7 linked regions of the Homo sapiens genome follow. The protein of the gene in region 2 purifies or fractionates together with the protein of the main gene of each other region. This does not show direct contact. Each region holds a gene or a part of one and is shown on either strand. Other genes may lie near its edges.

What was found.
Region 1: the proteins of MOB1B (region 2) and RASSF2 purify together in Homo sapiens (affinity purification with mass spectrometry; one large-scale study listed by BioGRID and IntAct). This does not show direct contact.
Region 3: the proteins of MOB1B (region 2) and PPP6C purify together in Homo sapiens (affinity purification with western blotting; one study listed by BioGRID and IntAct). This does not show direct contact.
Region 4: the proteins of MOB1B (region 2) and SLK purify together in Homo sapiens (affinity purification with mass spectrometry; one large-scale study listed by BioGRID and IntAct). This does not show direct contact.
Region 5: the proteins of MOB1B (region 2) and PPP6R3 purify together in Homo sapiens (affinity purification with western blotting; one study listed by BioGRID and IntAct). This does not show direct contact.
Region 6: the proteins of MOB1B (region 2) and CRLF3 purify together in Homo sapiens (affinity purification with mass spectrometry; one large-scale study listed by BioGRID and IntAct). This does not show direct contact.
Region 7: the proteins of MOB1B (region 2) and ANKRD28 purify together in Homo sapiens (affinity purification with mass spectrometry; one large-scale study listed by BioGRID and IntAct). This does not show direct contact.

What each region holds. Positions count from the first base shown.
Region 1 is NC_000020.11:4,795,741-4,800,161, forward strand, and holds part of RASSF2 (ras association domain-containing protein 2), read right to left. Parts: intron 2,346-4,421; coding exon 2,270-2,345; intron 227-2,269; coding exon 75-226; intron 1-74. UniProt on the Homo sapiens protein: Potential tumor suppressor. Acts as a KRAS-specific effector protein. May promote apoptosis and cell cycle arrest. Stabilizes STK3/MST2 by protecting it from proteasomal degradation.
Region 2 is NC_000004.12:70,981,870-70,985,940, forward strand, and holds part of MOB1B (MOB kinase activator 1B), read left to right. Parts: intron 1-110; coding exon 111-188; 3' UTR 189-4,071. UniProt on the Homo sapiens protein: Activator of LATS1/2 in the Hippo signaling pathway which plays a pivotal role in organ size control and tumor suppression by restricting proliferation and promoting apoptosis.
Region 3 is NC_000009.12:125,154,659-125,159,079, forward strand, and holds part of PPP6C (serine/threonine-protein phosphatase 6 catalytic subunit), read right to left. Parts: intron 3,725-4,421; coding exon 3,583-3,724; intron 1-3,582.
Region 4 is NC_000010.11:104,018,873-104,023,293, forward strand, and holds part of SLK (STE20-like serine/threonine-protein kinase), read left to right. Parts: coding exon 1-36; intron 37-861; coding exon 862-1,050; intron 1,051-1,615; coding exon 1,616-1,741; intron 1,742-2,747; coding exon 2,748-2,861; intron 2,862-4,421. UniProt on the Homo sapiens protein: Mediates apoptosis and actin stress fiber dissolution.
Region 5 is NC_000011.10:68,568,515-68,572,935, reverse strand, and holds part of PPP6R3 (serine/threonine-protein phosphatase 6 regulatory subunit 3), read right to left. Parts: intron 3,189-4,421; coding exon 3,039-3,188; intron 1,897-3,038; coding exon 1,832-1,896; intron 1-1,831.
Region 6 is NC_000017.11:30,793,076-30,797,496, reverse strand, and holds part of CRLF3 (cytokine receptor-like factor 3), read left to right. Parts: intron 1-98; coding exon 99-186; intron 187-1,159; coding exon 1,160-1,337; intron 1,338-3,824; coding exon 3,825-4,047; intron 4,048-4,421. UniProt on the Homo sapiens protein: May play a role in the negative regulation of cell cycle progression.
Region 7 is NC_000003.12:15,787,563-15,791,983, reverse strand, and holds part of ANKRD28 (serine/threonine-protein phosphatase 6 regulatory ankyrin repeat subunit A), read left to right. Parts: intron 1-4,421. UniProt on the Homo sapiens protein: Regulatory subunit of protein phosphatase 6 (PP6) that may be involved in the recognition of phosphoprotein substrates. Involved in the PP6-mediated dephosphorylation of NFKBIE opposing its degradation in response to TNF-alpha.

The sequences.
Region 1 (4,421 bases), on a different chromosome or scaffold from region 2:
CATTTATCTGCTTGAGAACACATAGAACACCCAAGCATCCCAGTCATCTCCCTGCCCCGTCTCTCCTCACTCACCCCTGAGCCCCCAGGTTACAGCCAGAGTGCCAGGAGGAGGAGGATGGAGGGGGTCGAATGCGTTCGTTGTCATCCTGCATCTGCAGGCGAATGGGCCGGCGCAGGCCCCAGGAGATGTTCAGGAGCCCCTCCACAATGAACTCGTCTTCTTCCTGCCCACAAAGCAATCAGAGTAGTGAGCCTAGAAAAGCCCCCACAGAAGCCAAGACCATGCTGAGGGACAAATGACACATTCTTCACATGTCCTGGCTGGGGGCCCCCAGACTGTATTCACAGGATAGGGGCAGCTGCCCAGTTCACACCGCAGCTCTGAGATACTTTCTGACGTCAACTACTCCAGATCCTGAAGCTGACCTCACAGGTCAGCACAAAAGTTGCTGTGAAATTCAAATACATAGGTATAAATTATAAAAAGCATTGTTTTTCTTTTTATCCTAATGACTTTTAAAGAAAGCGGAATACATTTCTTAAAATAAGTGAGATTAGCCTTGTTAACAGAAGCAAGAACTGGAGTTAGCTACGTCCCATCCCCTACTACGGAAAATGATGTCTCTTTAGCTACAACATCTGTTTAGCAATCCAACCTGGTGGTTGAAGGAAATTTAAAGCAACATTTGCCGAAGTTTATTCTACAGAACACTAGCTCCTCTAGCAGATGAACTGCTGTCTTTAAAAGGGTGTCAAGTGATCATGAGCTGGGAGAGGCTGTGCTAATCAGATTTCCAAACAGCAGAATGTCCCAGGTTCTGTAATAAACTAACGGGCTAAATGACAACTCTCCAACAGGTGAATAAATCTTGCAGGAGTCCCCAATTTATACTCAAAGGTTGCTGACTAATTAGACATTAAATGTAAAACCATTCTAGAGGCATTTATATGTTCTATCCCGAAGAATTGGGACTCGCTTATGACTATGAAATCCTTTAATCATGAAGCACTTTTAATCATTTATTCTATAGGACATAACCCAGGAAAGCTATTTAAGAACTAAAATCTTGCATGGCCCAGCTGCTGATTAGTAAAAGCTTGAAGGGCAGTTCCTAAAAGAATCGGTTCTCCTCCCTCTAGTCTCAGAAAAACCTTTTTGGAGCCATGTTTTATGGGCTATTCAAGTGTTAGATCTGGGTCATGGAACACATCTTCAGGACAAGCCCCATAGGTGAAAATAACATCAGCCCATTGAGCAACTAACTAACTTGGGCCCCAAAATCATCCTCAAAGAGGGAGGAAGGAATAAAAGAGGGAAGGAGAGAAATGAAACAATTTTACGGTGCTTAGGCGTCTCAGGGAGGAAGGCTTTATGTAAACATAGGCAATTTACATGGCCTTCCCCTGGTCAAGGTGGGCATCATTCCTTTACACAATTGTAGGTCAAAATTTAACCCAAAACAGGATTTTGTCTAAGTGGAGTGGTTTGAGGGACACAGAATAGGCCACTACATCCCACATACTGTCCCCAAGCAACCTGCCCTAGCAGCTGAAATTCCACCATCTGTTATCTGTTTCTATGGTTAAATCGCCACAGCTTGATAACCTGAAAATGTGTTTCAAAGGGCATTACACATAGGGACCTTTTTATCAGTCACAGGCGCTTGAGTATAAAGTACCCTACCAGACTCCTTTATAACTCATCATCTATCTGATAACAGGCTTTAGAGAAATGGATACAGGATGAGTAAGCTCAGTTTCAGGATGGGAATCAGATGAGTAACAAAAGCAACCTAGGATGACCAAGTGTGGGGACGGGCCCACTATCAGTGGGGACTCTGCTAACATCCAGAGCTTATGTGCTTTGCCCAGGTCACTGCAGTGATAGGACTTGGGCCCAAATGTTTAAACACAGAGGACTGGGTGGGGTTCCCGAATTGCCCAACGAGAGAACGTCTGCTTGGGAGCCACCTGGAAAGGTCATTTCATGAAAGCTCCCTCTGGAGAATCTCCCCCATGAGACTGGGCTAGCCCTGCCACATTTCTACAGGAATGTCTCTGGAACACATCTCTGAAACATTCATCCTTTTTGGAACAAAACTGGGCCTGGAGTCTTCTTCCAAAGAACCCCAAGGACTCTCACTAGCAACCTAAATAAGAAGCAGGAGAGGCAGGGTTCTCTTGGGACCTCAGGGACCTTCAGACCCAGGACACATGGTGACAAGCCCTGGACTAGCCAATCAGGGCCGTCCCTGGGGACTCCTTACCTCCCGGTGCCGGAGCTGTAAATTCTGGCCTTCATAGTACAAGTTGTAGGTCTTCAGATGCAAGAGAAGTTCATTTCTTAGGGGGAAAAATAGAAGAGATATAACATTATCAGCTGAAGCCACTTATAATGCAGTTGTTCCCTCTTTCTCTCACCTCTCACCTGGCCTTCAGTCACCCCACTTTGGGTAACTGTCCACATGTACATACACACACATGCACATGCACACAGAGTTCTGCCACCACCACCCCATAACCATCTTCCCCCAGGATCAAAGTCAAGAGTGAGCACCACCCCAGAACAATGCTTAAAGTAAGGAGCAACTCCAGGACACCAAGGCAGGCCTCGTCTACCGACAATACTCCCAAACTCAAGCTGAATGAGCAGGTGTTAATAAGCCATGGATTCACTGAGGCGAGCACTTCAGAGCCCACACACAGCGATTCTCCTGCATGGCTGTGGCCTTTTCTCCCTCAAGCACGCTGTGAGTGAGGAAAGGACAATAATGATAGGCCTTCACAAGACTCAGAAGCTGGCTGCGCGCAGTGGCTCATGCCTGTAATCCCAGTACTTTGGGAGGCCAAGACCAGCGGATCACTTAAGGTCAGGAGTTTGAGACCAGCCTGGCCAACATGGTGAAACCCCATCTCTAACAAAAATACAAAAAATTAGCCAGGCGTGGTGGTGCACACCTGTATTCCCAGCTACTCAGGAGGCTGAGGCAGGAGAATCACCCAAACCTCAGAGGCAGAGGTTGCAGTGAGCTGAGATCGCGCCACTGCACTCCAGCCTGGGCAAAAGACTGAGACTCCATCTCAAAAAAACAAACAAACAAACAAAAAAAAAAAAACTTGCAAACTCCCATCAGCATCAGAATGGGTGCATAAAGGAAGCAATAGCCACACAACGGAAAATTATCAGCGAAGAGAATGTGAATGAACTACACAACTACACGCATGTGTGTGACTCATGGGAATTATAGGATATGTGCTTTTCTTGTGTCTAGCTTCTTTCACAAAAAAGCACAGATCATATTCCATTGACAGAAAGTTCAAAATGGAGTGTTAGAATTCAGGATAGTGGTTCACCTTGGGGAGTAGTGACAAGAAGTGGGCATGAGGTGGCTTCTGGGCCCTGGCAATACTTTTTCAGTTCTAAAAATTAAAAAATAAAAACCCTTAGAAACTCCCCCTCTGAAGCCCAGCACTGGACCTCCTTAGCCACCAAGTTTTCCAAGTGGCTGCACTGGGAGTACAGCTCTACTGCACGTGGCCAGAGAGGAGATTTCACCCCCTTTGTGATCAGGGAAATCCCTCATCAACCCTGAGAATGCACAAGTCAAGTTTCATCTGAAAGTGCATGTTTTGCACTCCAGGTGGGATGAGAGGGGCGAGAGGTGGAGGGGGCCACTGTGCGCTTTTGTCTAGTCTCAAGTAAGAGGTGGCAGAGTTCAGCCTCTCTGAACCCAGCCATTCAGTGGAGAGATTTTGGACCACGCCAGGAGTCAAGACCCACTGGAAATGCCAAGAAAATCCTGACAAGTTAAACCTAGATAAAGCAGCATGATTCTATGCAAGCTGAAATAAATTTGTGGAAAATGTGATTCGAAATCACCTAAGACAAAAGGCCGTTTGGTACTTTTGAACACACAGATCTGAAACCGGGAGAGAAAATCATTGGTTGGTAGAAGTCCCTGGGGAAATCTGTCCACAAAGAGATAAGAATGGTCAGATGTCACAAAACATGTGTCAAGTGTGCCTAAGGACTTCCAACAATTTAGTCCCAGATAAATTAAATATTTCGTTAAGATAGAGAAATCCCAGCTGGGTGTGGTGGCTCACGCCTGTAATCCCAGCACTTTGGGAGGCCAAGGCGGGTGGATCACCTGAGGTCAGGTGTTCAAGACCAGCCCGACCAACATGGTGAAAGCCCACCTCTACTAAAAATTAAAAAATTAGCTGGGTGTGGTGGCGCATGCCTGTAATCCCAGCTACCTGGGAGGTTGAGGCAGGAGAATCACTTGAACCCAGGAGGCAGAGGTTGCCATGAACTGAGATCACGCCACTGCACTCCAGCCTAGGTGACAGAGGGAGAGTCCTTCTAAAAAAAAAAAAAAGAGATAGAGAAATCTTATGCTGGAACTTCCAATTCAA
Region 2 (4,071 bases):
TATGTACTTCAAAAGCTAATTTCCAACAAATGTTCATGGTAATTTACTTTGGAATAAGATGCAAATAATGTTTTTGCTATTTATTCTGCCTTTCTTTATATCATGCATAGGAATTCAACCTTATTGATAGAAGAGAACTTGCACCACTCCAAGAACTGATTGAAAAACTCACCTCAAAAGACAGATAAAAGGATGCAGAGCTGTGCAAATTGTTCCTCAAATGAAGCAGTGTGGAGTGTATTGGGGATTTTGTTATATTTTGTTTTTATCTGGATTGTTTTTGTCCTAGGTTTGGGGGCGGGGGCTTGTTTGGGTTCCTTTTTCTTTATTCTGATTATGTGAAACCATATTCTATTGCTAGGGGAAGCCAAGAACCATTCTCTATACACTTGATAAGGGTAAATTTATCTTAGTGTTTTTAAACTTGGTTTTGGTTACTTGAGGAGTTTTTTAATAATATTGTGTGCTGCAAGAAAGTGCTTGTTGATTGAACTGCCGATGGATTGGTTTCTGTGTGGTATAAATTGTGGCCCATTTATGAAGTCCCCAAAAGAGTTATGTTTTTAAGTGCCTTGGCAGGCTCACTTCTGAGGTGCAAAACATAGATATAGAACTGAACAGGGCTTGAAACAATATTAGGATTACTACCCAGGGCACTTACTGGTGCATGTTGTAACATATCTATGATAAAAGCCATAGTTTACCTAAAATGGTGATTTCCAGCCTTTACTGCTTTGAAGAAACAGAATTTGTAAAGGTATGCATGTAGAACATAAAAAATATTTCTTAATTATTTTTTATATTGATGGTAATATATTACGTTCAACAATGCTTAAAGCTCTACAAGCAGGTCTTTTCCCACCTCTTGATATCTGTGATACTGAAACTTGAGGATGTTGAAATGTATTACATTTTGGCTTCTTTCTACATGTTAACTGCACTGTAGATGTAAAAATTCAGGTTATATATAGGATTGCCATCTTCAGAGGTGATGCTGAACTGTGAGGTTTCCTAGTAATTGCCAAATGAGCCGTAAGTCTGCAGAATTCCCTTCTACTTTGAAGAGAAGGGGATAGGAATGTATATTTGGCTGGGGGCATGGAGATGTTCGTATGTATGAGGAGTTAGGGATGGGGAGTCAAGTTCTAGAAAGTTTTGTCTGAAAACCTTTGAATAGAATGGCATGAAGATTTTAATCAATTACTTATAAACAAAGTCTTAGAGACTTCCTTTTAGGAATCAACTTCCATGAGAAGTTAAAAATAAATTATTAATTTTAGGTACAGACATTAAACATGGAATTTAAGGACTGTTGGGGGAAATTGATCACTTCTTAGCATTTCCATTCAGTGAATGGAGCTGATGTTTGCCTGTCATTTTAAGATGATACCATACCTTCTTTGGTTATTATAGGTCCAGTTTGAAGCATTCTGACTTCTGGTTTTTCCACCCTGAAAGGAAATGTTTTTCTTTGCAGCAGTATTAGATAATGAAAAATGCTAATTCAGTAGTTATTAACTTCTAAATTTTATTCGCCATGACTTTCTAGTGAATTATTACCATAAATAACAATTTCAGAAACTTAGTTTTTAGAATAAATATTAATTTTTCCACTTCAGTTTTATTCTAGAAAATACCCTTTTTAGAAATCCAGTTTTAGTTTTGTCATTTTCGATAAATCTTTCTTCAGTTAGAAATATATATCCTTCCTTCAGTTGAAACATATACCTTTTTCACATCTAGGAAGAAATGCTTGCTCTGAAATAGTATAGATTAAAAACACTCAGTAGAAAAGAATCTAAAATTAAATGAATTTGTTTTGCCATTAAAGTAGAGCAGTGATACAATTTAATGCCATTACAATTATGTTGACTAGAAACTGCCTTTTTCTCCACTTCATTTCTAGCAATTATTTACCAAGTACCAACAGTAGAAGTAACAGGAAAGCCTGGCAGAGTTAAATATCTTGGACATTTATTGGTAAAGCTTATTTATAAACTGCAGTCAGAGCTAGTTAATTTCCTTAAATCTTTTTGTATTCAGATAGATAATATGAATCATTATGGGTTGATTCAGAAATAAAATTTGTGAGGTGATTTTGAATCTTGTCCATATAGGAAAATGAAGCACAGAATTACTCAGTCTTCCATATTGTATTTGACTTCATATCAATCTAGTAAAAAAGGAGTTGCAATAGCCAAGTATAGAGAGAATAGTGAAAAATTAATCTTGCCCTTTCAAGCCTTATACAGTAGTACACTGTACTTGTTTTTAGTAGTAAGACCTACTTTCCCACTATATGTAGATAGTTTGTTTTCACTGTGCCAGAATCTCAGGTGCCTGCTTAGAGTATTTCTTTAATCACAGTCACTGGGAAGTAAGGAGATGTATATATGTGTATATATGGTAACAAAGCATAGCAGTTCTCTAGGGGAGAGGCCTGGCATTGCACATGGTGTTACATGGCTACAAGTAAGGAAAAAATCAGAAAGTGAAAGAACTGATGTAATAAAAGGTTGATTTGGTTGGTTCCCATGAAAGTTAGTAAGATGCCCTTTTAAATATAAGGATCAGTGCTTTGTTCTGCAGCAGAGTTTGCTGATAAATGTCTGTTGGATTCTTTTTGGATTTCTTTAATTAATTTGTAAGTAACCAAGATAATTATTTTCCCCCTTGCTCTCTATATTAATACGTAGCTATAAAGCAACAGTTGGTTTTCTTATCCTTTGATAAAAGCATCCCATAAAATATAAAGTAGTAAGTTAACATAGTATTATTGTCACACACAATGCTTTTTTTGGTTAAATGTTGATACGAAGCAATGTTTTGGAATTACTTTAATTGATGGAGTAGTGGTGGTAGAGAGAAATTAATAACAAAAAGAGTGAAAATATTTTAATTAGCAGTAGATGGTGCTACTGGCTTTCATTTGCTGACTTGATTATTCCCTTTCTCTTAAAAACCATGGCATTAGACTGCACTAAATTAACAAGCATGTTAGTTGCTGGTAGAGGTTTTGGAGGTTAATTTACCTTAAATTGGAAGACTTTTAATTGCAGTCTCTTTCTACCTTCCCTCTGTTAGTCATTTGTAAATTCTAAATGGTCACCATAAAATGTATTAGGTAGGAGAAGATACGTTTTATGTATAATATATCTCAGACTGAGTTACTGCCTGTCTTATCAGGATGGATAAAACACTACAGTCTCTTATCAGGAAATAGAGATGATGTGGATATTTATATATTACATATATAACCACCAGACTCCATTTTATATATTAGCATTTTCCTTGCTTATGGGAAAATAGCAAAACAACATTTCATTTATACTTTTGTTTACCCCTCTCTGAGACAGGTTTTGATAACCACTGAAATGGTAGAATATGTGAGATACAAATATTGAGTTGTAGAACTTTCTTTTTAAGGTGAATAAGTCATGCCTTAACATCCAAATAAGAGTTCATCTTCAGAGTGGTTCTTTTGGGAGCACTGTTTATTCCAGCTATACTGCAAAAGTATAATGTTTTTGGAACTGTTCTAGAGCATACCATGAAAAGCAGTTTGTTATTATGCAGGAAAATCAGTTTCATCATTTTAGTTACACTAAACACTTTTGGCAGCTTAATATGACCTTTTTAAATTTTTTTTATTTTTTTTATTTTTATTTCTTTAAGATGGAGTCTTGCTCTGTTGCCCGGGCTGGAGTACAATGGCATGATCTCAGCTCACTGCAACCTCCACCTCCTGGGTTCAAGCATTTCTCCTGCCTCAGCCTCCCAAGTAGCTGGGATTACAGGCAGCACCACACCTGGCTAATTTTCATATTTTTAGTAGAGATGGGGTTTCAACATATTGGCCAGGCTGGTCTCAAACTCCTGACCTCAAGTGATCCGCCCTCCCCAGCCTCCCAAAGTGCTGGGATTACAGGTGTGAGCCACCACAGCCAGCCAGTATGACCTATCTTAATCATCAGCTCAACTGTAATTTAAATTTGGCTGTTCTCTGGAGCTAAACCATTAGGGAAGTTCAAAGGAATGTGCCATGATTTCCGAATTTGCACAAGAGAATGT
Region 3 (4,421 bases), on a different chromosome or scaffold from region 2:
AGATAAATTTATTTAAGGAGACAATTCTAGCAGGATAAACAGATCAAACAAATTAGAGGATCCTTAGTTATAGGAGCATGAGCAATTCCTAACTCTTCTCAGGGCTAAGTTGTCTCTTCTGAGATTTTCTGCAAATCGTGCGACTAAACACTTGAGCTTCAGTGGATCAAAACTGAGGACAGATTGCCAATCAGGTTCTTACAAATTCTCAGTTGAACACTCTTTCTGCTGCCTACGTAGTTTTTTGTTTTTGAGACAAGGTCTCACTCTATTGCCCAAGTTGGAATACAGTGGCACAATCAGCAGTGGCGCGATCACAGCTCACTGCAACCTCAACCACTTGGGTTCAAGCGATCCCACCACCTCAGCCTTCTGAACAGCTGGAACTACAGGCAAGTGCCACCACACCTGGCTAATTTTATTTCTGGTAGAGATGGGGATCTCCCTATGTTGTCCAGGCTGGTCTTGAACTCCTGAGCTCAAGCAATCCTCCTACCTCAGCCTCCCACAGTGCTGAGAATACAGATGTGAGCCACTGTACCCTGACTGTCTACATAGTTAATAGGGTACACACTTCTTTTGTTAACACCATGGAAGCTCTGTACTTTGGCTTCTTCCATAATTTTAGAAAAAAAAAAACCTGACATATCACTATTGCCTTAAGTGAAGCTGAAAATGATATAGGAAAGAAGTCTGCAGGTTATGACCAATCCCCAAGATTTTCTCAATTATATATCTACGTGAAGCAAGATTGTTATGTAAACTTGCCATAAGAGAGCCCTAACAATGAGCTCAGGTTGCAGGCAGGGATCTTGAACTTGGCTCAATAGTAACTGCCCAGTATGTGTTTATCAGTGTGAACTGAAGTCCCAGTGTAAAGTCATATAGGGATATTTTATTCCTTGAAAATCAATATAAGTCCTATAATAACTAAAATTATCTTATTCAAAACATATGTCATATGGCTGGACGCAGTGCCTCATGCCTGTAATCCCAGCACTTTGGGAGGCCGAGGCGGGCGGATCACAAGGTCAGGAGATTGAGACCATCCTGGCTAACACGGTGAAACCCTGTCTCTACTAAAAAATACAAAAAAATTAGCCGGGCATGGTGGCGGGCGCCTGTAGTCCCAGCTACTTGGGAGGCGGAGGCAGGAGAATGGCGTGAACCCAGTAGGCAGAGCTTGCAGTGAGCGAAGATCGCACCACTGCACTCCAGCCTGGGTGACAGAGCGAGACTCCGTCTCAAAAAAAAAAAAAAAAAAAAGTCATATATTAGCCATATATAACAATATGTATTTTATATATTATACATGTAGCATTAGTTACATATATATAGTAGGTGTGTGTGTTTTTATAACATTAGTTTTAGTACTGTTTTCACTGAGCTAATATCATAGTATGTTATCCAAAATATTGATTATTTTGCAAAAGAATCCAAAAGTTGTATTTCAATTGGTGTTTATTTTGTGAATGAAAATAAAAAGTCACCTGTAGAAAGGAGATAAATATTACCTAACTTTACACGTATTAAAAAAATTATATAAAAACAATAAATTCTCAAAATTTCTCTAATTGATAATGGCAGACAAACTGAAGAGTAAGAGAGTTCAGATTATCTTTGCTTTGTTTCGTTTTGAGACAGCCTCACTGTCATCCAGGCTGGAGTGCAATGGTGCAATCTCGGCTCACTGCAACCTCCACCTCCCGGGTTCAAGGGATTCTCCTGCCTCAGCCTCCCGAATAGCTGGGACTACAGGCAAGTGCCACCATGCCCAGCTAATTTTTGTATTTTAAGTAGAGACGGGGTTTCACCATGTTGGCCAAGATGGTCTCGATCTCCTGACCTTGTGATCTGCCTGCCTCAGCCTCCCAAAGTACTGGGATTACAGGCATGAGCCACCACACCTGGCCCAGCCTATCTTTATAATGAAAGAAGATAATTCAAAATATAAAATTTAAATCTAAAGGGTTCTGCAATTAATGTTTCCAAATCTCTCAATATCTGTCTTAATTGTGCTCAAGGAAAATCCAAATTCATAATCTTGACAGTTCTATTTCCCTGAAGGGGCTTCCTAATAAGCTCGCTCTCTCTCTCTCTCTCTCTCTCTCTCTCTCTTTCAACCAAATAAAAGTTTTAAAGAATTAGCTAGTTTGCTTTTTTTCCTTTCTTGAGACAGAGTCTGGCTCAGTTGCCCAGGCTGGAGTGGAATGGAGCGATCTTGGCTCACTGCAACCTCCACCTCCTGGGTTCAATCAATTCTCCCTGCCTCAGTCTCCTGAGTAGCTGGGATTACAGGCCCCCACCACCATGCCCGGCTAAATTTTTTTTATTATTAAACTTTAAGTTCTAGGGTACATGTGCACAACGTGTCGGTCTTTTACATATGTATACATGTGTCATGTTGGTGTGCTGCACCCATTAACTCGTCATTTACATTAGGTATGTCTCCTAACGCTATCCCTCCCCCCTCCCCCTACCAGTGCCCGGCTAATTTTTGTATTTTTAGTAGAGACAGGGTTTAGTTGGCCAGGCTGGTCTCGAACTCCTGACCTCAGGTGATCCGCCCGCCTCGGCCTCCCAAAGTGCTGGGATTACAGGGGTGAGCCACTGCGCCTGGCCTATTTTGCTGTTTATGACTAAGTTCTGCTTCTGATCCCTGAGGTCCTAGCATTCTCTGGAGTGAGCATACAGAGATATATGTAAAAGGATGTATAACAGCAGCTTAAAAACAACTCTAAAGTCCAACGATAGAGGAAAAACTGATACATCAATTATGCTACATCCATATGGTATATGAAGCAGCCATGAAAATAACATTAATAAAGTGAAAAAATCAGGTATGTCCCCATTTTAGTGTGCACGTGTTTGTACATATATAAACACACATAAACACACACACACACATACAAAATGGATGAGAATGGACTCTCAAATTTGTGCAGAACATTCACCTTCAGCAGATTCTAGATTCCCACTCCAAAATATTTTGATTAATAAATCTGTGGTGAGGCCCAGCATTCTCCTTTTTTTTTTGGTTTTTTTTTTTTTGAGACGGAGTCTCCCTATGTCGCCAGGCTGGAGTGCTGTGGCATGATCTCGGCTCACCACAAACTCTGACTCCTTGGTTCAAGCAATTCTCCTGCCTCAGCCTCCCGAGTAACTGGGATTACATGCACACACCACCACGCTCAGCTCATTTTTGTATTTTTAGAAGAGAAGGGGTTTCACCATATTGGTCAGGATGGTCTCGATCTCCTGATCTTGTGATCCGCCTGCCTCAGCCTCCCAAAGTGCTGAGATTACAGGTGTGAGCCACCCCACCCGGCCGGCAATCTACATTTTTAATGAGAACCCAGGTGATTCCAGCTACACTTTGAGGCACAGATCTAGAAAGATGCACACCAAAAAGTTAACAGTGGTCTTCTCTCGAGCATAAGATTTTCAATTGTTTGGGAGGAGTGAAGGAGTGAGGATGTGGGGAAAATAATATACATAAAGCATGTGTATGACTTGTGTAGCTTTGTTTTCCAAAGAGGAAAGTAAAATAATATTCAGAATCAGAGAAATAGGAATTCTTACCATAAAATCCATAGACCTGTGTTATCTGTCTACTCTCATGATTTCCTCGCAAAAGTGTAATACGATCAGGCCATTTAGCCTTTAATGCAAGAAGGTAAGTGAAGGTCTCCAAACTATAGTAACCTCTGTCTACAAAATCACCCTGTGAAGTAAAAGTTTACAGTTACAAACAATACAATAGCCACAATATTCTTTTCAAATTATATCAAACTGTACAAACATATAGTTTATAACTACAATAAAGAGTTACATACTGAATTATTTGGAAATTTGATTTTAACAAAAAAATAAAATACACGTAAACAAATTTTTTCTATTAAATGTTTATACAAACAAGATTTTTGATTCCAGGGAAATCTACAAGAATCTGCTGTGCCATTCTCTCAAAAACTTTCCCTGAAAAAAAAAACCACCATTTTTTTTTCTTTTTTTTCTTTTTTTGAGACAGTATCACTCTGTCACCCAGGCTGGAGTGCAGTGGCACAATCTCGGTTCACTGCAACCTCCGCCTCCCGGGTTCAAGCGATTCTCTTGCCTCAGACTCCTGAGTAGCTGGGATTACAGGTACAAGCCGCCACCACACCCGGCTGATTTTTGTATTTTTTGTAGAGACGGGGGTTTCACCAGGTTGGTCAGGCTGGTCTCAAACTCCTGACCTTGTGATCCACCCACGTTGGCCTCCCAAAGTGCTGGGATTATAGATGTGAGCCACCACACCTGGCAAAACCACCATTTTTTCAATCCTCTATTACCTACATTAGTTGATTTGGTCATCTGCTAACCAGTATTTTTTAAGTTTTTTTTTTTTTTTTTTTTAGATGGAGTTTCACTCTTGTTGC
Region 4 (4,421 bases), on a different chromosome or scaffold from region 2:
ATGCAAAGACATCAGCTACTTAAGCGCCACGAGAAGGTTAATGAAAGGAAAATTTCTTCATTTTTTTGTTCGTTTTAAAGTTTGCAAAGCTATTTAGTTTTGAAACTTAAGTTTCTTAGATAATGAATTTTAGATTTCCTTTCTGTCTTTTATCCTACAATTTCTTGGATGAAGTTTGGAGTAATTAATTGTATCTTGATCATGATTGCAAACTTCTTTTCTACAAATTATAAGGAAAGTAACTAATTACAATGCTTAAAGACGTTTTACACCTTGTAATCTTCATCTCGGCTCTCAAAGGTAGCTATTTTGGCTCTATTTGTGGTTCAAGTATCTTAAAGTATGGACTCCTTGTACTTATTAAGAGTTGCAGTATAAAACTCTCATCACTAATAACTTTCTTTTCTTTTTATTCTTTTGAGACAGAGTCTCGCTCTGTCACCTGGGCTGGAGTGCAGTGGCACTCAGTCATAGCTCACTTAACCTCGAACTCCTGGGTTCAAGGGATCCTCCTACCTCAGCCTCCCAAGTACATTCATGCACCACCACACCCTGCTAATTAAAAAAAAAAATTTTGTGTGTGGAGACAGGGTCTCACTATGTTTCACAGGCTGGTCTCAAACTCCTAGGCTCAAGTGATCCTCCTATGTCAGCCTCCCAAAGTGCTGGGATTACAGGTGTCAGCCACCAGACCTAGCCTAACTTCTTACAAGTTATTTTGTGCCTAGTATTTTGCTGGTCACTGCAACAAGGGAGAGGGTAATTATAGGAAACAACAATAACAAAATGACATATTTGAATATGCATGTGGGTACTGACTATTGTTTCTGCGTCACTGGATTCTATTTAAAACTTTCATAGGAAACAGAGCAAATGCAGCGTTACAATCAAAGACTTATTGAGGAATTGAAAAACAGACAGACTCAAGAAAGAGCAAGACTGCCCAAGATTCAGCGCAGTGAAGCCAAGACTCGAATGGCCATGTTTAAGAAGAGTTTGAGAATTAACTCAACAGCCACACCAGATCAGGACCGTGATAAAATTAAACAGGTAAATATGCAAGTTAGTCTCTTCTCTTTTAGGTTTAAAATTTTTGAATGACCATTAGAAGTTCTACAAAATTCCTTTCTTTCTAAACAATTAGAGCCACCTTAGGCTTGTTGATGTTCACTTTAATTCTGTGGGCTGGGACTATAGATACATGGCATATACCAATTAGTCTTCCCCAGGATGGTGGTCACAGAGAGCAAAGCCCTTCCTCCTATACCCCATACCAGCTCCTGAGCTAGACTGGTCCTAAGACCAGCCCTGGGAATGAGATGACTCGGACAACTTTTCAAGTCAAGATATATGGCCTCACTGTGATACTTCTGTAGTCATGGTCACACACACAAATTAACTCAGATCACTAAGCAGATAGGAGGATCAAGGTTTTAATCAGAAGTTCCTGCTCTTCTCTGAAGCTGTGATGTGGACTCCAGGTTTGAGTCTCAGCATATTATTACTTGTAGCTTCAGTTTATTGTGCCTTGTTTTGTTAAATTCCTTTATATCTTCAGAATATATAGAAATCACATGCTTCTGAACTATAGTTTATCTTTTTTTCTTATTTATAGTTTGCTGCACAAGAAGAAAAGAGGCAGAAAAATGAGAGAATGGCTCAGCATCAGAAACATGAGAATCAAATGCGAGATCTTCAGTTGCAGTGTGAAGCCAATGTCCGCGAACTGCATCAGCTGCAGGTCAGATACAGAAGCCTGACAGCAAAGCCCATAGGATGCGGCAGCACAAGTGGCTGCTTTTGAGAGAACAGTAGCTAGCCAAAGTCAACTGCATCATACACGAACATGCTGGGTTTGAGAGGTTCTGTTTTTTGTACAGATCCAAATGAAGATCAGTTTGGTATCATAGGCACTTGTGTAGATTATATATAACCATGATTAATGTAAACATAAAGCTAAATTGTAACCTACGAAATTGAGTCTTTCAAAAGCAGTATTGAGTATGGTTTTTAGTATATTTTGCAAGAAGATGTGGAGAGTTTCAAAATGATGTAGACAGTTTTGTTGTCATATTCTGAATTTTTTGTCAGATTCTAAATTTAAAATTTCTTTTCCATTTAGAGGGAAATAGTTTATTTTCTTCTAGGTTTTTGAAATAAGTGATAAGTTAAATATATGGGAATTTTTCTCCTAGGAAATTTAAAAGTTATTCGAGAGAGGGCTGATTTAGGACCTTACATAGAATGTACAGCCCATCTAAAATGTTTAAGATTTCAGAGTAGTGTATAAATGTGGGTATCTATATATTTGCTTAATTTACTATAGTAGAACAGATCCTAATAGATTGGCCTAATGGGCCAATAGATCTTTTACAGGAATAGATCTATTAGGCCAACCCTTTAGTACCAGATCCCACATTCTGTACTCACGGGTAAAATGTATGCAGGCTGCCTTCTGAAGTGTCAGTTTTATGAGCAAATCTTCTTAGAAAGGAAAAACAAAAGCTCAAGCTAGTTCTTTTTAAGTTCTTTTTATATGGTATGTAATAGTTCTAGCTTCTAAACTTGTAAAAATGAAGCTATGATTCATTTCCTAATTCATGGCCCTTGGTTTTTATAGAGGAAAACTTGAATCTCAGTAATAGCATGATATTTGATGAGTAATTTATTATTATGGAAGATAATTGTATTTGTGAAAAATTGCTTAGTTGATCTGAAATTTTTTTAAATCCCAACTTTATTTTCAGAATGAAAAATGCCACTTGTTGGTTGAGCATGAGACTCAGAAACTGAAGGAGTTAGATGAGGAACATAGCCAAGAATTAAAGGAGTGGAGAGAGAAATTGAGACCTAGGAAAAAGGTAATTTTAAAAGCTTTAATTAAAATGATATGTGTGTACTCGTCCGTCTACCCAGCTATTGGCTCTTTACCTACTGTGTCAGGTACAGTGTCAGGGGCAGGAAACATAGAGATGAAAAGACAAAGTTTTTGTCCCCAGAAGTTTTGGAATCTAGTGACAAGCAGTTAGGAATTGGTAGGGTCATTGCTCTGAAGGAGGTGAGTACAGGATACAAGGGAAAGGAACAGATTTTGTAAGCAGAGGAGGAGGAGAGCTTAAATCTGCCTGGGTAAGTCAGGGAGGGTCTTCAAGAGGAGATGCCTTGCAAGCCAAGTGAGTCTTGAAGGGTGAGTAAGAACTTGCTAAGCGGATGGGCTGATTGGAGTGGAATGGGATGATTTGAGTAGGGAGAAGAGAATGAGTGAAAAGGAAGCGTACAGAGAATTGTAGATCGTTCTCTGACATTGGAGTATGAGAGGGGGTGTGTGCCAGTGTGTAGTCATTAGGGAGGAAGAAAAGGAAGGAAGGAAGGAAGCGATGACAGCTGAGTCTGAACAGGTCAACTGGAGCCATATTAAAAGGCCCTGTTATTCTACGTAAACTTGAAATCTGGTAAAATAGGGATGGTGTCTTCTCTGTCTCACCCCTTTCCCTTGTTTGTGCTTGACACCCTATTCACCTGGTCTTACTGGCTAACCATTTCACCTGAGTTTTTGCTATCACTATATGATCTCTGACCCTTCGTTACTCAAACTTAAACCTTTGTTTTGGGGGGAGCTTCCTGCCTACTGTACATTTCCACCATTCCTTTCTTCCATCCATACAATCAGTCAAGGAAATATGTATTTAGCTATGTGCCAAAGGAAGTGAAATGACTAAATGAGTTCATAGTGTGGCTTTTTGTTTGTTTGTTTAGACAGAGTCTCACTCTGTCGCCCAGGCTGGAGTGCAATGGTGCGATCTCGGCTCACTGCAACCTCCGCCTCCTGGGTTCAAGCAATTCCTCTGCCTCAGCCCCCCAGGTAGCTGGGATTACAGGCATCCACCACCACACCTGGCTAATTTTTGTATTTTCAGTAGAGACGGGGCTTCGCCATGTTGGCCAGGCTGGTCTCAAACTCCAAACCTTAGGTGATCCACCCACTTGGGCCTCTCGAAGTGCTGGGATTATAGGCGTGAGCCACCATGCCCGGCCCATAGTGTGGCTTTTTAATTTAAATTTTCTTTATTGTTAAACTTTTTGAATAGGTAATGCATTCATGTAGTTTAGAATTCAAAAGGTACAGAATTGTAAACGGTGTAAAATCTCCTTTACCTACTTGCAGCCTAGCATCTGCTTCAAACACCCTAGTTGAACTAGTTGACAGTGGTCACAAGTGAGTTGCTAATAGTCAAATCCTATGGCCTTATCTAACTGTTCTCCTTAAAAGTCTTGTTTCTTAAAATTCTCCTCTCACCTGGCTTTTGTGACACAGCTCTGCTCATTCTCTGTGTTCTTTATCCCCTTTTGTCTCCTGAAATGTAGACATTTCTCAGTTTTGCCCCTGTAGTAAAGAACAGTCTTTACCTTGATGATTTTAT
Region 5 (4,421 bases), on a different chromosome or scaffold from region 2:
TGAAGGCTTGCTTGGAAAATAAAGTATCTGCTAGAGAATCTTAGAGGGCTTGGGGGTGCCTAAGGGTAAGAAGTACAGGGTTGATTATTTAGGTAGAGACAAGGTCTTGCTTGTCATCCAGGCTGGAGTGCAGTGGTGCAATCACAGCTCATTGCAGCTTCAAACTCCTGGGCTCAGGCAATTCTCTCACTTCGGCCTCTTGAGTAGCTGGGACTATAGGCAAGTACCACCACATCCGGCTAATTTTTTGTAGAGCCAGGATCTCCCTATGTTGTCCAGACTGGTCTCGAACCCCTGGCCTCAACCAATCCTCCCATCTCAGCCTCCCAAAGCAGTGGGATTACAGGCATCTCCCACCGTGCCTGGCCAGAGTCAATCTTCACTGAGTTGCTCAGAGTCTCTTTTAGTTCTTCAGTAAGATCCAGAGAGCCAGGTGTTACCTACAGGCAACTGAGTCACTCTTCTGCACACCCTCAAGTACACAAGTGAAAGAAAACAAAGGCCCATCTCTAAGGTGACCCACAGCTTCAAACTGCTTCAGGCTGTTGTGCAAGGAAACAAGGAAAGTTCTTTCGGGATCCCCCTAGACAGAGGGAATGGTATTCACCAGGCCTCCAGAAAACGGGACTCACCAGGAGAGCAGGGCACAAAGGATATCTGAGCCCTGGCCAGATGAGGAGGCAGCAAGAAGACTGGAGGTTGGGAAGGACACAGAGAAGCCAAGACGGAGTCAGACATATAACCAGAGATGTCAACTGGGCCACAAACAGCATCTCCAAAGAGCTCCATTTGGAAGAATGTATCTGAGGTCTACCAATACTAGCCCCTTGCCACAAACAAACAAACAAAATGCCAATTTCCCACATGAAGCCAAATCAAAACCCTAGTAGCAGTGCTTATTAAACGATTTAAAAAAAAAAAATCAAACCTCACAAAGTAAGGCTGACTCCCAAGAGTCATCTAGCTTTCCTGGAGACACAGAGACACATAACAAGAATGCTGGGAAATGATCAACTACAAAGGACCATGAGAGAAATTTTGGGGGTGACAGAAATGTCTTGATTGTGGTGATGGTGACTTCAGGCATCAGTCAGAATTCCTAGGAATGTACACCTAAAATGAGCTTTACCATATGAGAATTATATCTCAATAAACCTGTCTTAAAAACAAACACAGAAGCATGCCTTCAGAGTGTTTCCCAAACACGCCCTTATGCCACCATGCTTCAGAATCTACGGGGTGACATAAAGGCTTCCAGGGCACTAGAGAGGAATGCTGTTACAGACAACACCTGTAAGAAAACGTTTTGTGTAACAAAGCTACTTACATGTATCAACTAATACTTCACATAACCTTGCCAATCAGCTAACAAACATTTTCTAAAAAGAAAACACTGAGCAATTTTTTTCCTCTAGGTCCCTGTACAAAGCAACTCTTCTCTACAATGAAAATATGTACGTGATACCTTCTGTTCTGAGCATAAGGTGACCAGGACAAATACACTAAGTCACATCATCAAGGACTTAACTTTAACCTTATAACTCTTAGAACAGTAGCCATTCAAAAAGGACCAGGAAGTTTCAAAGGCAGCACAGAGGTGGGGAACACTCCGAACTCACTTGTTTTGCCCCAAAAACAAGAGGACCTAACAAGAAATTATTAGTATTATAAAAACAACTGTTACAATGAAATAATCTGGGGAAAAGTTTAAATTGTAAAATGGCCAGTATCATGTAATTATTTCCATTTTTTTCTGACTAGGGCAAGGAGGTATTATTTTCCTCATATTACCAACCAAACTGAATTCCTTTCAAAAAAACAATTTACTTACTGTTTCTTCTCATTCATTTCCCAGGCTTCAAGTATTCGTTCTATTAATTGACATTTTTGGAAAAGCTGAAAAAAAAAAAAAGAATATTCCAGTTAATACTTCAAAGCATCAAAACTTTAAAGTGAAACAGAACTCTAGGTTAAAGAGAATAGTAGTATGCATAATCTAGCAAGCTAAATGTTACTAAGCCAAATGCAATGTGATCATCAATCTACTGCAGACACCCACAACACTACAGAGATTCAAATCAGGATCCACACCCTCCACAGAACATCTACAGGAAACTCAGTATTATAGGTAGTGCAGTTAACTACCTATAGTTAACTATAAAGGAAAGCCAGGTTTTATTAGCTGTGAAAATTCAGAACAGAAATATAAAACCTGAGCTAAATTAAAATGGAATAAAGAAAACTATGCCTTGGCAAAAATTTAACTTAGAATCCAAAGTAATGCTTGTACTTTTAAAATGTGAGCACGTCTTACTTCCAGATGAACTAACATTACTGCATTAATATTAAAAACAGGTGGGTTTTGCCCAAAGTCTGCAAGTCAGTGACAACTGCTGTAGGCTGCAATACTGGAATGTGCAGGGCTAGTTCTTCTCAGGTGTCATTTGTCTTTCCCATCAACTTGGCTGTTCCAAGCTAGCCTTTTCTACATTTTAGGTTTGCGAGTAAACCAAGTGTGGGCTAGAAATTTTAAAAGTACCATAGAACTACCAAGCAAGAAAAAATCTGAAGACTGACTTAGTAAAATTATCTCATATTTGACAGAAGAGAAAAAGAGACCCCAGGAAGACTCTCAACATCACAAAGAACTCAGTTCTCCTGACTTTCAGTCACGTATTCAGCAAAGAAACTACACTCTGGTCAGCCAAATAATAGTGCAAATGTTTTCCATAGTATTTAAATTTCTATGATTCTTCAAATCATCAAAGAATTTATATATCTTCAAACCTATTAATTTTACCAAATAAGGAGGCCACTTAGCTTTTTTCTTACAAGACTGTTCATTTAATAGTTATTTGTCCAGTACTTGATTTATATAATGATTTATATGTTAAAAGTGAAACGAACACATGATTGTCAAATATTTAGACTCTGAAATCTAACCTCAAGCCCTTTAAACCTCAATTCACATCACAGTCAAGTGGAAAACTGCTATAACCAGGAGAGAGTGGGAGAAAAACGAGACCAAATAAGCTTACATGTTTTAATAACAAATTATCACCAGTGGAGTCTTGATCGGTAATTGTGGCATTTTCTGTGTTTTCAAAAGGACTTGCAAGAATCAGTGCAATACAAATTTCCACTTGTGTATGCAAAAAGTTATTCCATGTATACTTGAAGAACATGTTCTACAAAAAAGAAAAACCATGTTTTATTCGGTTACCTCAATGTTTAAGCCAATACTTAAATACATTTACAGAACAGTGATTTAATAAAGTAAAAATGATGTGCTCTCAGTCCAAAAGGACCAATTAAAAGGAACCTGAGTTCACATTAGTACTTGCATAACCACAGTTTCATTTTCTGTGGTTTCAGTTACCCACAGTCAACCATGATCTGAAAATAGGTGAGTATAATACAGTAAGACATGCTAATCCAAGAGATGACATTCACATAACATTCATTACAGTATAGATTTATAATTGTTCTACTTTATTATTAGTTATTATTAATCTCTTCCTGTGCTTAATTTATAAATTAAACTTTGTCACAGGTATGTATAGGAAAAACACATAGTATATATAGGGTTCGATAGCTGTGGTTTCAGGCATCCAAAGGAGTCTTGGAAGGTATCCCTCATAAATAACGAGGACTAAATGGGGATGTGAAGTATTGCTTTAGAGCCTAAATGGCGTGCTATCTGCTTATCTGACATGCCAGAACTGGTATGGAATCTAGTAAAAAACCAACAACAAACATACAAAGACAAGAGTACGTTTCTCCAAGAGAAAGGGAGTATCTTTTTTCTCTTCAAAGCAACTAACACAAATAGTTAGCGTGGTAAATTTTCTATAATTTTCAAAAAAATTTATAAGAGGCCAGGCGTGGTGGCTCATGCCTGTAATCTCTGCACTCTGGGAGGCCGAGGCGGGCGGATCACGAGGTCAGGAGATCAAGACCATCCTAACACGGTGAAACCCCGTCTCTACTAAAAATACAAAAAAATCGCTGGGTGTGGTGGCGGGCGCCTGTGGCCCCAGCTACTCAGGAGGCTGAGGCAGGAGAATGGCGTGAACCCAGGAGGCGGAGCTTGCAGTGAGCCAAGATCACTGCACTCCAGCCTGGGCGACTGAGCCAGACTCCATCTCAAAAAAAAAAAAAAATTGTAAGAATTTCATTTTGATGCAACAAATATTTACTGATGGTTTTTGTGCAGGGTATTGTATGAGATGCAACATGGCAGACAGAGATACACAAAAATACGGTCCACAGTCTTGAGGTGCTCATGACTCAACTCCAGCATACAAAAACTAGAGCTATCAGCAAAAACAAATGAGGATACGAGAGGCAGTAACGTGAATCTCCTGGAAGTACAAGGGTTTTCAAATTACTTGAAAAGGTAATAGCATTACAAAAGGGAA
Region 6 (4,421 bases), on a different chromosome or scaffold from region 2:
TTTGCAAGAACGCTAGAGACCCACCCAGACATGAGTTGTGTTGATTACTTTATATGTGACCATTTTCATTGTTCTAGTTCTCTTATTCTTGATTGTAGGTGAAATCGCCATGCTTGGTGGTGTGGGAGAAGAGAATGAGAAACTGTGGAGCTTTACCAAAAAGGCCTCGCACATTCAGTTGGACAGGTAAAAGAGTTTGTGCCTTTTTGACTTACTTTTAAGCATTTAAACTATGTCTGCTTTTTTCCTCCCTCTGTTCAAGATTCTCATTAAGGGAGATAGAGAATATATATTTCAAGGTTTTCAGACCATGCGTGGTGGTTTACACCTGTAATCCCAGCACGTTGGGAGGCCAAGGCGGGTGGATTGCTTGAGGCCAGGAGTTTGAGACCAGCCTGGCCAACATGTTGAAACCCTGTCTCTACTAAAAATATAAAAATTAGACGGGCATGGACCTGTAATCCAGCTACTTGGGGAGGCTGAGACAGGAGAATTGCTTGAACCCAGGAGGCAGATGTTGCAGTGAGCCAAGTTTGTACCACTACACTCCAGCCTGGGCAACAGCAAGACTCCATCTCAAAATAAGTATAAAATAAAATAAAAAATTATCCGGGCATGGTGGCGTGCGCCTGTAAGTCCCAGCTACTCGAGAGGCTGAGGCAAGAGAGTCGCTTGAATCGGGGAGGTGGAGGTTGCAGTGAGCTGAGATCGCACCACAGCACTCCAGCCTAGGGGACAGAGTGAGACTCTGTCTGAAAAAAAAAAAAAAAAGCGTTTCACTGCCCATTACCACTGTTACTAATGAAATAGTTGTGATTATAATCCTTGGTATAGTATTACTACACATTTTTTCAATCCAATATATAAAAGAATTGTTAAATTTTAGAAATTATCAATGTATTGTTGAAATGGAGTCATATTCCAGTAAACCAGATCTTTTGGCTTAAACTGGACAGTTATGATCCTACCAATTTTCTGTCTTACTTATATTTATTTGAAAAGAGAATCTTTGTGTAACATCTTGCAAATCCCCTACTGCCATGAGAATTAATTACTGGGGGCTTCAGGATCTTTCAAGCATGTGACTGCTCTAAAATATTTCTTGTATTTTTTAACTCTCAGTTAGAGGTCTCATAACACATGAGCTTTGTTTCCTCAGCTTACCAGAAGTACCTTTACTGGTTGATGTGCCTTGTTTATCTGCTCAGTTGGATGACTCAATTCTTAACATAGTGAAAGACCACATTTTTAAGCATGGAACAGTAGCATCTCGCCCACCAGTACAGATAGAAGAACTAATAGAGAAACCTGGAGGCATCATTGTACGATGGTGTAAGGTATGTAATTCAGAATTCTAGAAATGACTTCCACATTATGGGTTTGCGATTTGGAGGCCTTTCAGATTTTTTCGTTGACTACTTTTAAATACATTCTTTTCTTCTCAAACAAAAATCTCTTTTACTTTACAGTTAAAATGAAGTCACATGGAACACTGAGGTAGCTCTTCCAGTTTTATTTTTATTTTATTTATTTATTTTTTGAGACAGAGTTTTGCTCTTTCACCGAGGCTGGAGTGAAGTGGCGTGATCTCGGCTTACTGCAACCTCCATGCCCTCCCCCGCCTGCCGCTTCCCCCGGGTTCAAGCCATTCTCCTGCTTCGGCCTCCTGAGTAGCTGGGATTATAGGCACCTGCCATCACACCTGCCTAATTTTTGTATTTTTTGTAGAGACGAGGTTTCACCATGTTGGCCAGGCTGTTCTTGAACTCCTGACCTCAGGTGACCCACTCGCCTCGGCCACCCAAAGTGCTGGGATTATAGGTGTGAGCCGCCGTGCCTGGCCTTTTTTTTTTAAATGAAGCCTTGCTGTGTCGCCCAGGCTGGAGTGCAGCGATGCAACCTCCGACCTCAGGTGATCTGCCCACCTTGGCCTCCCAAAGTGCTGGGATTACAGGTGTGAGCCACTCCGCCTGGCTGACATTTTCTTTTTTTTTTTTTTTGAGACAGAGTTTCGTTGTTGTTGTTCAGGCTGGAATACAATGGCACGATCTTGGCTCACCACAACCTCCGTCTCCCGGGTTCAAGCAATCCTCCTGCCTCAGCCTCCCAAGTAGCTGGGATTAAGGCATGCGCCACCACACCTGGCTAAGTTTGTATTTTTAGTATTTTTGTATTTTTAGTAGAGACAGAGTTTCTCCATGTTGGTCAGGTTGGTCTCAAACTCCCGACCTCAGGTGATCTGCCCACCTCGGCCTCCCAAAGTGCTGGGATTACAGGTGTGAGCCACTGTGCCCAGCTGAGATTTTATTAAAAGGAAATTTTTTTTTCTTTTTTTATAAACATGCTGTTGTTATTTTCTAACAGGACTGTCATTCCATTTTTATTATTTTTCCTATCAGTGGACCTAGTTATTTCCAGTTTTTTGCTATAAGTATTTTTACTTGTGTTTCTTTATGGACATATGTGAAGTTTGTAAAATATTAATATTTACCTAGGTGTAAAATTATGAGGTCTTCTTAGAGTATTGGATCCATACGCTGATAGGTAATAACAAACTTTCCACAAGATGATTCTATCAATTTAGCCTTCCAAGGAGTATATGAGTTTCTGTTATTCCATATCTTGACCAATAATTGGCATTGTGAGACTTTATATTTTTGCCTAAATGTACCTTGTTGTGGTTTTATTTATTTGTTTGTTTTTGAGACAGGGTCTCACTCTGTCACCCAGGCTGGAGTACAGTGGCACAATCATGTCTCCAGTCTCAATCTCCTGGGCTCAAGTGATCCTCCCGCCTCAGCCCCCAAGTAATTGGGACTTCAGGCATGTGCTTCCACAGCCAGCTAAGTTTTGTAATTTTTTGTAGAGATGGGGTTTTGCTGTGTTGCCTAGGCTGGCCTCAAATTCCTGGGCTCAAGTGCTCCACCCGCTTCGGCCTCTCAAAGTGTTAGGATTATAGGCATGAGCCATCATGTCTGGCCTTGTTGTGGTTTTAGATCGTATTTGCCATATTACAAATTAGGTACAAATTAGGTTGAATATTCATAATATACATTTTTGGCTATTTATGTTTCTTCTCCTGTAGAACGCTTATTTATGTCTTTTACCCATTTTTCTATTGGGTGGCTAATTAACATACAGAATATATGCAGGACCCCTAAAAATTAATGGGGGTTCTGTATACTGTATGTTAATTATCTCTTGGTTATTATGAATGATGTATGGTTGTGGGAGACTTACTGAATCTTGAATGTTTTATCTTTGGCATTGATTAAAAAACATGCCATTTCTTCAAAGGAGGCAGACTTTTTTATATCAGACTGGGAAATACAGAACACATGGTTCAATAAAGAAAAGAAGGGAGCCCAGGCGCAGTGTCTCACGCCTATAGTCCTAGCACTTTGAGAGGCTGAGACGAGAAGATTGCTTGAGCTCAGGAGTTAAAGATCTGAGATATGGTGAAGCCCAGTCTCTACAAAAAATACAAAAAATTAGCCGGACATGGTGGTGTGCACCTGAAATCCCAGCTACTTGTGGGGTGGAAGGAAGAGGATGGCTTGAACCCGGGGTGTGGAGGCTGCAATAAGCCGAGATCACGCCACTGCACTACAGCCTGGGTGACAAAGTGAGACCCTTTCTCAAAAAAAAAAGAAGGGAGATAATGATGTGATGGCATATTTTCTATGGCCTTCCCAAGAATACCCCATATTCAGCATGTGGGCCTGTCTGCTTGGTCCAAAATGGCTCCGTTCAAAATTTTTAAGCAGTGATGCTGAGAGAAGTCATTTTCTGTTTTTTACCTAACATAAAGCTTTTCTCCCTAGGTGGATGATGACTTTACAGCCCAAGATTACAGGCTCCAGTTTCGTAAATGTACTTCAAATCATTTTGAGGATGTATATGTAGGTTCTGAAACTGAATTCATAGTATTGCACATAGACCCCAACGTTGATTACCAGTTCAGAGTCTGCGCCCGAGGAGATGGCCGACAGGAGTGGAGTCCTTGGAGTGTCCCCCAGATAGGTCATTCCACATTGGTGCCTCATGGTATGCTGCTAACCTTTTCTCTCCTGAAGCCTAACTATATATTAGAATACCTGTATTCTGTGCTAAGGGCAGCACACTGACAACCAGCTATTCTAAGCATAGATCCTGAATTGATAAGAACAACATGCACCATGTCTTTTACTCAGATTACCTCATGTGATTTTTGTTTTCATCAGTTCTTCAGAGTCCAAAAAAAATGCTGGACAAGATTTTTAGCCTCATTGAAAACCAAAGATTGAAAATATTATGTAGGGCACTGATATTCCTTTTTATTCTTTTTTTTATATTTGAATGTTATTTAGTTAGTTTTTTTGAGACAAGGTCTCACTCTGTCGCCCAGGCTGGTGTGTGGTGGTGCAATCATGCAGCCTGAC
Region 7 (4,421 bases), on a different chromosome or scaffold from region 2:
CTTTTCACCATTTGTGTGTCTTCTTTTGAGGAATGTCTATTCAGATCTTTTGCCCATTTTTTATCAGATTATTAGGTTTTTTCCTGTAGAGTTGTTTGAGCTCCTTATATTCTGGTTATTAGTCCCCTGTCAGAGGGGTAGTTTGCAAATGTTTTCTCTCGTTCTGTGGGTTGTCTCTTCACTTTGTTGATTACTTCCTTTGCTGTGCAGAAGCTTTTTAACTTGATGTGATCCCATTTGTCCATGTTTGCTTTGGTTGCCTGTGCTTGTGGGCTATTGCTCAAGAAATATTTGCTCAGACTAATGTCCTGGAGATTTTCCCCAGTGTTTTCTTGTATTAGATTCAGTTTGAAGTATTTAATGCATTTTGATTTGAATTTTGTATATGGCAAGAGATAGGGGTCTGGTTTCATGATTTTGCATGTGTTTATCCAGTTTCCCAGCACCATTTATTAAAGAGACTTGTCTTTTCCCAGTGTATGTTCTTGGCACCTTTGTCAAAAATGAGTTTGCTGTAGGTGTTTGGATTTGGTTTTGGGTTCTCTGTTCTGTTCTATTGGTACACGTGTCTGTTTTTGTGACAGTACCATGCTGTTTTGGTTACGATAGGTCTGTAGCATAATTTGAAGTTAGATAATGGGATTCCACCAGTTTTGTTCTTTTTGCTTAGGGTGGCTTTGGCTATTCTGGGTCTTTTCTGGTTCCATATAAATTTTAGTATTTTTTCTATTCCTGTGAAGAATTCCATTGGTATTTTGATTGGGATTGCATTGAATCTATAGATTGCCAGGACATTTTAACAGTGTTGATTCATCCCAATCCATGAACATGGAATATTTTTCCATTTTTTGGTGTCCTCTTCAATTTTCTTCATTCGTGTTTTATTGTTTCCATTATAGAGATCTTTTACTTCTTTGGTTAATTCCTAAGTATTTAATTTTATGTATGGCTATTGTAAACAGGATTACTTTTTAGTTTCTTTTTCACATTGTTCACTGTTGGCATATAGAAATGCTAGTGATGTTTGTACATTGATTTTGTATTCTGGAACTTTACTGAATTTATCAGTTCTAGTTTTCTTGTGGAATGTTTAGGTTTTTCCAAATATAAGATTATATCACCAACAAACAGGTATAATTTGACTTCTTCCTTCCCAATTTGTATGCCTTTGATATCTTTCTCTTGTCTGATTGAGCTAGATAGGACTTCCAGTACTATGTTAAATAACAGTGGTGACAGTGGGCATCCTTGTGTTGCAGGTCTTAGAGGAAAGATTTTCAGTTTTTCCTCATTCAGCATGATACTAGCTGTGGGTCTGTCATATATGGCTTTTATTATGTTGAGATATGTTCCTTCCATATCCAGTTTTTTGAGGGTTTTTATCATGAAGGGATATTGAATTTTTTAATCAAATGTTTTTTCAACATCAGTTGAAATGATCATATGGTTATTCTTTATTTTTTTGATATGATATATCATGTTAATTGATTTTGTGTTTTGAACCATCCTTGCATCCCACAGATAAATCCCACTTGATCATGATGAATGATCTTTCTAATATATTGTTGAATTCAGTTGTGCTAGTATTTTGTTGAGGATTTCTGCATTAATACTCATCAGCGATACTGGCCTGTAGTTTTCTTTTTTTGATGTGTCTTTGTCTGGTTTTGGTATCAGGGTAATACTGGCCTTGAATGAATTTGGAAGTATTCCCTCCTCTATTTTTTAGAATATTTTGAGTAGGATTGGTATTAGTTCTTCTTTAAATGTTTGGTAGAATTCAGCAGTGAAGCCATTATGTCCTGGCCTTTTCATTACTAGAAGACTTTTTATTACAGCTTTGATCTCATTACTTGTTACTGGTCTGTTCTGGTTTTGGATTTCCTCTTGTTTCAATCTTGGTAGGTTGTATATGTCTAGGAATGTGTCCATTTCTTCTATATTTTCCAGTTTATCAGCATATATAGTTGCTTACAGTAACCACTAACAAGCCTTTGGATTTCTGCATAAGTCATAATGTCTGTGTAAGTCGTAATTTCTGTGTAAGTTGTAATGTCTCCTTTTTCATTTCTGATTTTATTTGGATCTTCTTCTCTTTTTTTCTTAGTCTGGCTAAAGATTTGTCAATTGTATTTTTTTAAGTCAACTTTTTGTTTCCCTAATAGATTTTTAACAAACTTTAATTTTAAAAAATTATATATTCATATTATTTGGTATGACATGAAGTCTTCTAGAAGTCATGTAACATAGTTTCACTAGCAAATACTAGAGTTTTATATTTGGCAGATTTTGGCCACAGATATAATAATTGACTACCTGAATAAATAGAGGTTTTTTGCTTGTGTAATAATTTAATCTAGAGCATGGTAATTTGGGGTTGTTTAAAACAGCAATGTCAGAGCTCTGGGTGAGCTTCTCTGTGAAACTCTTGGCTTTCTCATAATAAAGAGATGACTGCTGTATCATGTACTTATGGGAGACAACCAAAGACATTGGAAAAGAGACTCTCCTGTACATTTTCTTTTCTTTTCTTTTCTTTTTTTTTTAAAAAAAGGAGAAAACCTCTCTTCGAAAGTCCCCACAAAATTCCTTCCTAAGGTTCCATTGGTTACAAGACTACTCTAAACTAATTCACCAGCAAAGCAGAATGGGGTTCGCTTTTTGCTAGATCAGTCTTGGTTCATCACCTGGTTCATCCCCTGGAGCAGGAATAGGGCTTCAGTGGACTTTATTGAATATATTGCCATATTCAGGAGTAAATCAGGATTTTCATAGGAAGGAAGAAAGGGAAAATAGTTGTTTGGATAGGAACCTAACTGGACGGTTATTAGTTGCCTAAAAACTGTTGAAATAGCAAAATTTTGGAAAAATAAGTCACCTGGATGTGGAAGAAGCACTGTAAACCATAAAAGGGTGAAATGCAATCAAAATGTTTTAAAAGCAGAGTGGTACATAGAATGTGAAGAACAGTTGGACTCTAAGTTGAAAGACCTAGATTTTCATATCTTCTTAGCCTTATTGGCTATACAAGTTGAGTGAATCCTGTTAACTTCAGCCCTCACTCTTCTTTTTTTTTGGGGGGGTAAATGTGTAGGGTTACATTAATGATCTTCACAGTCTTTCCCCACTCCAAATTCAGGACACTCTAAAAATTCTAAATGACTTTCAGTGACCTCCTGCTTTTGCCCAAAAGCTTTCATTTGTGTTTCTAGATTTTCGTGACCAAAATAATAAATGCCTTTCCCTAAGATTTACTAGAACTTAATGCCATGTTGTAGAACCCAAATAGGTTAATCTGAAATATTAATGATACCACATTTTAGAGGAAAACTTTGATTCTTCTTTATAAGAAAATTATTTTCTACAAATATTAATTTTTTATTAAGAGTATTAAAATTGGTGTTAATTGTAGAACTTTACTTTTGAGACAGACATAGGCATAAGCCATTTTGTATTACTCAATTTAACTTGTACAACAGTTTTATAAAATTGACAGGTTAACATTTCTACTAAAATTCACAAAAATTAACCGTCTGCAGAATCAGTATAGCAGAATGGGAATTTGAACCCATGTCCGACTTAATAGTAACTGGAGAAATAAAGCATATTGTTGAGAGAGAAATATTTTTTCTTCTGCCAAATAGTACTATAAAGCAATAATAGTTGGAAAATGGATGTTTCTCTCTAAAATAGTTATGTCTGTGCCCTATGAACTCCTGCCTTTTAAGCTGTGATACAAAGATAATCCTAATTTTTATAATACCAAGTGCTGTTACATTTTATCATTGCAAACAAGTGATGAGACAAATAAGACACAAGCCTTCTTTAGTGCCATATTTTTTTGGTAGATAAAAATGTCAAAGTAGTATTACACAAGGATCCAGCCAAACTGTTTTTAGTGTTTAAACATAGGAAGGCTGAGATTATGAGCAACCCTTTTTAAACTCTAAAGAGCTGATTTAAGAGCTAAGCGGTAGATCTTAGATGTAGCATATAACTTAATATTTTTGAAAGTGTTACCTTGTATATTCTGCTTATTGGCTTCTGAATTTAGATATACTTTATTATTCAAAAATGAATTGCAAAAGTAGTCCTCCAAATTATTATCCCTTGTTTTCAAAACCGCTTTCTGAAATCATTGAAATGATGTTCATTTTACATTTTTCACATGAAGTGCTCAGCAAATACAGTCTTTTCTGAAAATTAGCAAGAAGCAGTCTAATCTTGAACAAGTCTTTCTTAGTGGCCACATGTTGCTTCTGCTGACTGTCAGTACACCAAGCTGTTGATGTTTCTGAGCTCTTAAAAAATCTCTTCACTCATTACTTGAGGCTGTGTGCACTCTCTGTCCTAAAACCATATGTGTGTACATGGTCTTTTCTTATAGCTATTCACAGTAACTAGTGTTGGAGCCCACAACC